Linked DNA regions of Homo sapiens: region 1 is linked to region 2. The links come from fine-mapping of genetic effects on gene expression. A gene starts in region 2. The other region holds a variant in brackets. All regions are shown on one strand. Distances are between the middles of the regions. Region 1 overlaps LOC105373411 (a long non-coding RNA gene). Region 2 holds the start of ID2 (inhibitor of DNA binding 2).

Region 1 (4,427 bases), 33 kb before region 2:
TAGGAGGTGGACAGGGCCCCCCACAGCCCACTGCCCTGGGGGTGGCTGCAAGGGGCCGAGCCCAATCCCGTTCAGGAGGGGGAGCAGTGCAGCAGGGGAGCAGCATGGCTGGGCAGAAAGGGGCCCCAGTGCAGAGCTGGGGCTGCACTTTGGGGATCCAGGACAGGAAGTGGAAGTGGCAACCACTTTTGGGACCTGGCCAGTGGCACAGCCACTGTGCCCACACCGCCTAGGGTGCCAGGTTCCTGCACTTCAGAAGAAGGCTCTACACAGGCCATCCAGGGCCGGGTCCCTGGGGTCTGCCCTGAGTCAAGATGGCTGCCAAGCTTGCCACTTCTGATGGCCGAGCCCAGGGCCCGAGATCCACTCCATCCCAGGCCATCCTGGAGCACAAGGGCAATGGGGAGAGCTCATGGAGATGTCGCCCCTGCCCCGGACACTGGCTTGGGGCCCAGCAAGGATCAGGAGCCCCCAGCCCATGCTGCAAGGGGGCACAGCTGGGGCTGCATGCTCCATGGAGCCAGCAGGAGCCAGGAGCAGGCAGCAGCCCCGTCCTCACAGGCATGGCTGCAGCTGCCCAAGCCAGGCAGTAGACCTGGGCCTCCCGTGGTCTTGGAGGGCCAGGAACAGGCAGGAGCCCTGCCCTCCCAGGTGCCACTGCAGCCACCCAAACCAGCGGCTTCAGCCTCAGGCATCTCTGCACTCTTGGGGACCTGGGAAGGCCCTCCTGCCCTTGCAGGCTCAGAAGTGCCTGCTCCAGCTGCCTGGCTTCTCCCTGCTATTGATACCTGCTCCGATCTTGGAGCAAAGTCTGGGCCAAGCTGGGGTGCCATGAACAGCAGCAGGAAGCAGACAGATTCCTGGGTGGAAGGAGGCAGGTCCCTGGAAAGACCCCATCTTCAGGCCAAGGGCTGCCAGATCCCTGCACCAGAGTGGAGGAATGTGGTGCCTTTTTTGACCCCACCCATGGCCATGCATGAACCAATCAGCATGTACCTCCTCCCCTCTGAGGTCCATAAAAGCCCCAGGCTCAGCCAGAGCAGGGTAGAGGACAGAGGATGGAAAGATGACTGGGCACTGGAGGACCAACTGCAGAGATGATCTACCCTCTCTGCTGAGAGCTGGAAAGTCAATGGGGACCTGCCTGCAGAGAGGAACCACCCTCTCCAGGGCCTCCTTTCTGCTGCTTGCTGAACACTGGACAAGACTACCTGCCTACAGAAGGAACTGCCCCCTGCAGCCTCCTCAGAGCTGCTCTAACACTCAATAAAGCTTCTCTTTGTCTTGCTCACCCTCCACTTGTCTGCATACCTCATTCTTCCTGGATACAGGACAAGAACTTGGGCAAAGGCGCCACCAGCCACAGAGGTTTCTGGCCAGAAAAGCAACCCCCTAAAAGATCCTGTAACACAGTGAGGGCCCTGCCTTGACTTCAGAGCCACTGCCTCCTAAGTGGCCTAGAAGCTTCTTGGGGACACATTTTCCTCCAGGGGATGAGGTTCACTGATGCCTGTTCTGGGTCTCTCCACCTTTACCCTGCACGTATCCTTCCTTCCATGGAACTTCCTTCCATGAGCTTCCTTCCAGTCACTCATGTCCTGCACAGCGAGGCAGTAGGCCTATAAGTAGAAGTTGGTGCACAGCACCCCTTGTGCACATGTGAGGGGCATTTGCTGGGGGACATGGCCCCATGCAACTCCACAACTCCCCTGTTCCCCATGAAAAACCCAAAATGTGCACCCTCATCTCAGACCTCCCCTTAGGACCCCAAATTCTCTCTGGTGAAATTGTCAGCCACCTTCCTCTGGAAATCCCCTTTCCAAAGATCCCCTTTGTGGGCTTAGCTGTCAGAAGCATAGCTTTGCCCTTGCTCCCGTCGCAGGGGGGTCCACATCCCCTGAATCTGGGCTGGCCTGTGGCTGCTATAGCTGCTGCAATTGAGCAAAGTGAGGCAGTGGGATGACGGCAGCCTCCACCTTTGCCATCTTGGAAGACAGGTGCCACGTACGGAAACCCAGGGTGGACTCGGGATGATAAAAGTCCACACAAAGAGCCCCCTTTATGGCCTTTATGGCCCGGCTCCCCAGCAGCAGCCTTGAGGCCCCCAGAGGCCTCTTGGTCTCTAGCAGGTCAGGCTGTCCCGAATTGCTGACCCACACACCAACCCCTGAAGCGGCTGTTATGCCAGGCTGTTACATTTTGGGCAGGGGGTGGGGGCTCTGTCATACAGTAACGGATAACTCAACCATCCTTGGCAGGCCCCAATCATCTCTTGGATTCCAATTTGCCAGTGTTTGTGTTTTGGTTTTCGCTTTCCCCATTTTATGACCTCCCTAAATCATTGCTCACTGCTTCCCTGAAGTCCAGCATATAATAGTCAATCTGTGCACTGGAGTCTCAGAATAAAACCCATTTATCTTCCTTAAGCATTCCAGAGCAGTAAAACTAAAAATATTAGCAAGTTACTTTGGCTAGAATTACCAATAGTCTTCCCATAACATTTAACTTCCTATTTCTTTAACCTGAGTTTAAAGAAAACATATACATATATGTTTATATATAAATGTATATATTTATATGTATA[T/TAAATTAA]AAATTATAATTTGTACATAATATATATTTATTTTATACATAACATATATTTTACATGTAACATAAATTATACATTGATACATTATATATGTGTACATATATGTGTATGTATGAGCGTATAACGTATGTGTGTATATGTGTATAGGTATAATGTGCATATATATGTGCATATATTATATATGCATGTGTGTATATATGTATGTGTATAACATGTATATATATATGTGTGTAGGTATAACGTGTATATATATACATGTGCATATATGTATGATTGTATAACATGTGTACATTATGTGTATATATTTATGTGTATATGTATAACATGTGTATATATTATATATGCATGTGTGTATGTATATGTGTGTATATATTACATGTGTGTAACATGTGTATATATTATATGTATGACATGTGTATATTATATATGTGTCTATATACTATATGTGTATAACGTGTATATATATGTATATTATACATGCATGTGTATATATGTGTATGTGTATATTATTTCTATATATGTGTATATGTACGTGTATATGTGCACATGTGTATATATGTATGAGTATAACGTGTATATGTGTGTATATAACATGTGTATATGTATGTGTATATATGTATATATTATATGTGTGTACGTATGTGTATGTGTGTATATGTGTGTATGTATGTGTATGTGCGTATATGTGATTATATGCATATGTGTATGTGTATAGCATGTGTATTACATATGTGTGTATATGTGTATAACTTGTGTGTATAGATGTATATATTACATATACGCATGTGTATATATGTATGTGTATATTACATGTGTATATGTATAACGTGTATATATGTGTATATATTATATATGCATGTGTATATGTATGTGTATAATGTGTATATTGTGTGTATATAATATATATGTCTAATATGTGTGTATATATATTATATATGTGCATGCACACACACACACACACACACACAGATCACTCTGAAGATCTACTTTTTAGGGAAATGTCACATAATCACCACTTTCCTCCTTTCTGTCAAAATATCTCCCCCATCCAGGCACTGGGTGCCTTAAGATGCCACCCCTCACTCACTCCCCTCGGCGCACTCCTTCCCTCAGGTCCCAGCCTTTCTTGGCGGCTCCTCCTTCCTGTCCCATGTGACAGCACAACTCCTTTATCTCCAATCCAGTTCACCCCAGCAGCTGGTCACCAATATTTGTTGAATGAGCTCTGCAGGGGGTGGGGAAGAGGAGGTGCCCTCCAAGAACATCCCCTAGCTCCTTCCCCTGCTCCCCGTCCAGCCACAAGACTTCCTATTTGACCTTGGTTTTCCAAATTTCCTGCAGTCTCAGTGGTAACCTTTCCACTCCTCCCTGGCCCCACCACAAGCAGCCAACCAGAGACTGGCAATTGGTGGACCCGTGGAAGGGATCCATGAAGGGACCCATGGAAGGTCCAGGAAACACAGAATAGAGGAGAGGACACACCTTTGGCCAGTTACTTGTTTCAAACTCATGGTATATTAATACTTAGAAAAATCTTTTAAGCATCCAATAACACTATTTTGATCATTCAATGGATGCCCCTCATGACCAACATACCCACACACTAAGAAAATCATGCATGGCATAAATAAAGCATGGGGTCTTGAAGAGCTTGCCTTCTGGTGAGGAAATGGCTGCAGACGAGCCGTGGGGAATGGTACCAAGCTGAGCCACTGGGGCTGGGCAGAGGGGCACACAGATGCAGTGGGAGCACGGAGGTCCTCAGAGGAGCAATTAGAAAGGCTACTAGCAAAGGGCACATTTGAATAGACCCTTGGAGGAGGAGACTCGCCAGACAGAGATGGG
Region 2 (4,326 bases):
CACTAGTAACTTAGGCCTCGTTTAAATCATTAACTTATACAGCTTCGTAATCCCCTTTAAATGATCTTTAAATGAATGTAAAACTGGGTAGCGTGCCAATAGAATCGAATTCAACACAGCCAGGCAGACTGGACTCTGACATGGCAGCTAAAGAAAGAAACACCAGAAAACTTTCACCATATTTAGCCATTTTACTACATCAGGGTACAAAAATGATCATGGGAGAAGGCACTGCCTTAATCAACTTTGCAAAGTGTAAAGTGAAACCGCACAATGCTCATTACCGCCCAACCCAGAGCCTGGCTGTGGGGATAATGAGGCTGGCACGGATGTTAACATACGGTGTCCTTGGAAAAAGCTAGGAATGCGTCAGTATCGAAGAGCTGCAATGTCCAAGAATCATAAGTAATAATTTGAGAATCCCAAAGATGTTTGTTTACATTGGCTATTATTGTAAAATAGTCAAAGTATAACATCATGAACCAAAATAGTGTCAAAACAAAATCTGTTCCACTGTGGCACGTATGTGACAGAAACACATGCACACAAAGTACATCAAAAGGCTCGAACTGTGGGAGGACTCGGATAGTAAATCACTTCCAGACTTAATATCAGAAGAGATACGGTGCATCCAACGCTGTCAGGGACAGAGTCGCAGGCAGCATTGCCTGGCCTGGGGAAGGCCCTCCGCAAACTTCTGGCTGGACAGGAAACAGTTTACCTCCTTCCTCCAAACTGAGGGGGCTGAATTTCAGGAAGGTGAGCTCCACCTCAGTGCCACCCACTCTGCCTCCCTGGAGAGGCGTCATGGGGCGCATAGCTGTCACGTGACGGTCAGAGACTGCTGGCCCCACCAGCTGAGAAATTAATCATTAATTGAAGGAAAAAACACTGTTTCCCCATTATCGAGCTTTTCTTTCAGCTTCTAGGCCTGCCCCTTCCGCTTTCTGAAATGCAAAGGAGGTAGAGATTGAGGCAGAAAGTAAATAAGATTTGAATATTGCCTTTCCTGGAGTTTTCTAGTTCATTGTTTTCTGGAGCAAATATTTTCAAAAACAAGAAACTGACACACTGTGGTCAAAACAGAATTCTAGATAAGCTACAATTATGTGAAAATTAAGGTATTTAAGTAAATAGCTGCAAACTTTTTAAAACTTAGACTGAAAGAACGAGTTCTTAAAAGATTTTCAGCCAAAAAAAAAAAAAAAAACCTTGAACCCGTATTCAGTACTAGTGCTGAAAAGATTCCAAACCTCATATGACAGAATATTTTTTTTTCCTTAGTGTGAAGATGTCTATCAATGGCTAGGGCCACCTATCTGTCACAAAGCTTTGGAACTCCTCTAGGTGTTGGAATGTGACACCAGAAATCACAATTAGTGCATAATTAATCACATTACTTTGCCACCTACACGGAAGGGCACAGACCGGCAGCCTTTCAAGGGCAGTGTATGTAAATGTAGTTTCAATATGCAAATTCTCCTAATTATTTCCGATTAATACGATCATTATAATAGCCCTGCCTCCTTCTTGAAAAGGAACCCTGAAAGCGCCCTGCCTGTGAGAGCTCCTTAGCGACCGGTGAGGTTGGGCATGGTTTGCAATAAGTACTCATTTTCTTGAGTTTACAGTAATGCCTCCCGCGCTGCTCCGGGTTGCAAAAGCCCACACTAAGCCTGTCGTCGAATGCGTGCGTGGGTGGTTTGTTTGTGTTAACATAACTTTTCCTTATCTGAAGAGACGAACTCACTCTACAAACGTGACTCTTCAGTGACAACCTAATTTGCGTTTTCACTTTCTTCTGAAATGCTTTCTATCTTTCCTCACGCTCTCCCTCCGATGGGTTGCAGTGAACTGTGGCTTCCCCCCTGCGGTGCTGAACTCGCCCGTGTAGCTGTGATTTTAGAGCTGCCGACAGCTCTAAGGTGTGTAGGGCTTGGTCTGGGAACACCCCCAGGGCAAGGGTCCCGCCGCGCGCTTGGAATTAGAATTAAGAATGCATATTTAGGCGCCCAGGGTCTGCCCCCTTCTCCCTCCTCCTTCCCCTCCCCCTTCCCCTCCCCCTTCCCCTCCCCCATCTTCCCTTCTCTTCCTCCTCCCTCCTCCTCTCCCTCCTCCCGCCTCCCTCCTCCCCGCCCCCCGCCCGCCGCTCCCCGCCCCCCGCCCCCCGCCAGCCCCGCACTTACTGTACTGTACTCTATTTACCACCCCAGCTGGGCTCGCGCCCCGCCCACCCCGCGGGGATTGGCTGCGAACGCGGAAGAACCAAGCCCACGCCCCGCGCCCGCGCCCACCAATGGAAGCGCCCGCTCGTCTTGATAGACGTGCCACCTTCCGCCAATGGGGACGAAGGGAAGCTCCAGCGTGTGGCCCCGGCGAGTGCGGATAAAAGCCGCCCCGCCGGGCTCGGGCTTCATTCTGAGCCGAGCCCGGTGCCAAGCGCAGCTAGCTCAGCAGGCGGCAGCGGCGGCCTGAGCTTCAGGGCAGCCAGCTCCCTCCCGGTCTCGCCTTCCCTCGCGGTCAGCATGAAAGCCTTCAGTCCCGTGAGGTCCGTTAGGAAAAACAGCCTGTCGGACCACAGCCTGGGCATCTCCCGGAGCAAAACCCCTGTGGACGACCCGATGAGCCTGCTATACAACATGAACGACTGCTACTCCAAGCTCAAGGAGCTGGTGCCCAGCATCCCCCAGAACAAGAAGGTGAGCAAGATGGAAATCCTGCAGCACGTCATCGACTACATCTTGGACCTGCAGATCGCCCTGGACTCGCATCCCACTATTGTCAGCCTGCATCACCAGAGACCCGGGCAGAACCAGGCGTCCAGGACGCCGCTGACCACCCTCAACACGGATATCAGCATCCTGTCCTTGCAGGTAAGACCTGCTCCGGGGTCCCCGCCCCGCCGCCGCACACTCCCGCGGTCGTCTGGGCTGTCACTAGGAGATCCGTAGCCCAGACGGTGACTTTCGTATGAGCTATTTAACTTTATTTTCTTCAGAATCTGCTGTAGATTGAGCTGTGCGTGAAATTGCTAGTAAGTTCTGACATGTTAATGCGTCTGTCTTTAAATCTGAATTGTTACCATAAACGTGTTTAATGGAACTTGCTGGTCTGTGGACTACAAAAAAAAAAAAAAAAAAAAAAAAACCCTTTCTACTTAACATTGTCTTAACCTCGTACTCTTTATCCTCTTTCTTTCCAGGCTTCTGAATTCCCTTCTGAGTTAATGTCAAATGACAGCAAAGCACTGTGTGGCTGAATAAGCGGTGAGTGTTTGCTTGTGCCACCCGTGGGTAAACTGCCCCTCGGTGTGTGTGCGCGCGCGCGCATGTGTTTTTGCTTGTGTATCTATAAAATGTCTGATTTGGTAAATGCATGCTTACTTCGCGGTGTTACCCGTACTACATTGTCTCACTAGACATGAAGGAGCTTGTAGCTTTGGGTGCTCGAGATCACAGAACATTTTCCTTTAAAAGGAAATGATGCCAATAACTTACTACGAAGGCGGCCGAGGAACGTGTGTATTGGCTTTGTAGCAAATGTAATGCCCTGGATCTTCCTACGAGTCCTCTGGTACTATGAGGTACTAACCTCCACTGTAATTAATCTTACCGCCACAAATTCCATAGTGATCCTCCTTCCCTAAAACTATAGTCCTCTGGGATTCTCTGGGCTAGTTGAGGATTGCTACCCTGTGCCTTCAACCCTGTGATGTGGGATCCCAGACTTCCCTATCTGTTAACTAAAGGGCTGTTTTCAATCAAATAATTGTTACGAGAAGCAGACTGGCGCCTGTAGCACTGCTGTTGGAGATCCAAATAGGAGATTGGGTTGGGAAGTTTTTCCCTTGAGTCTCTGCTATTTTAATGTTTAATTTGCGCTGTCGAGGCGAGTGTGTGTGTTGCATCTGGACGCCAGGGTTTGCCCAATCTTTGAGTGTTTGGTTAAATGTTCAAACTGTGGCTTCCTCCCGGCGCCAGTCGCCCGCCTCTGCCCTTAGGTTACATTCTCTTAAACATGCCTTTCTCCCCCACTCTTTCGCAGGTGTTCATGATTTCTTTTATTCTTTGCACAACAACAACAACAACAAATTCACGGAATCTTTTAAGTGCTGAACTTATTTTTCAACCATTTCACAAGGAGGACAAGTTGAATGGACCTTTTTAAAAAGAAAAAAAAAATGGAAGGAAAACTAAGAATGATCATCTTCCCAGGGTGTTCTCTTACTTGGACTGTGATATTCGTTATTTATGAAAAAGACTTTTAAATGCCCTTTCTGCAGTTGGAAGGTTTTCTTTATATACTATTCCCACCATGGGGAGCGAA

Evidence for each region. PIP is the estimated chance that this variant, and not a neighbour inherited with it, causes the effect. A credible set is the group of variants that fine-mapping cannot tell apart.
Region 1: its variant is the best candidate, but not a certain one, in a credible set for the expression of ID2 in whole blood (INTERVAL, PIP 0.64).

What each region holds. Positions count from the first base shown.
Region 1 is chr2:8,646,682-8,651,108 of GRCh38, forward strand. The region is part of intron 1 of LOC105373411 (a long non-coding RNA gene); the gene reads right to left. Among named protein-coding and RNA genes, the nearest start is that of ID2-AS1, 33 kb to the right of the region's middle. The variant T/TAAATTAA (reference allele first, on the strand shown) is at 2,585.
Region 2 is chr2:8,679,641-8,683,966 of GRCh38, forward strand. It overlaps ID2 (inhibitor of DNA binding 2), which reads left to right and starts at 2,416. Exons shown (of 3, transcript NM_002166.5): 1 at 2,416-2,873; 2 at 3,203-3,266; 3 at 4,045-4,326. The coding sequence starts at 2,526. The coding sequence ends at 3,259. It overlaps ID2-AS1 (ID2 antisense RNA 1), which reads right to left and starts at 2,223. Exons shown (of 4, transcript NR_110154.1): 1 at 2,187-2,223. RefSeq lists enhancers at 1,615-2,118, 2,606-2,655.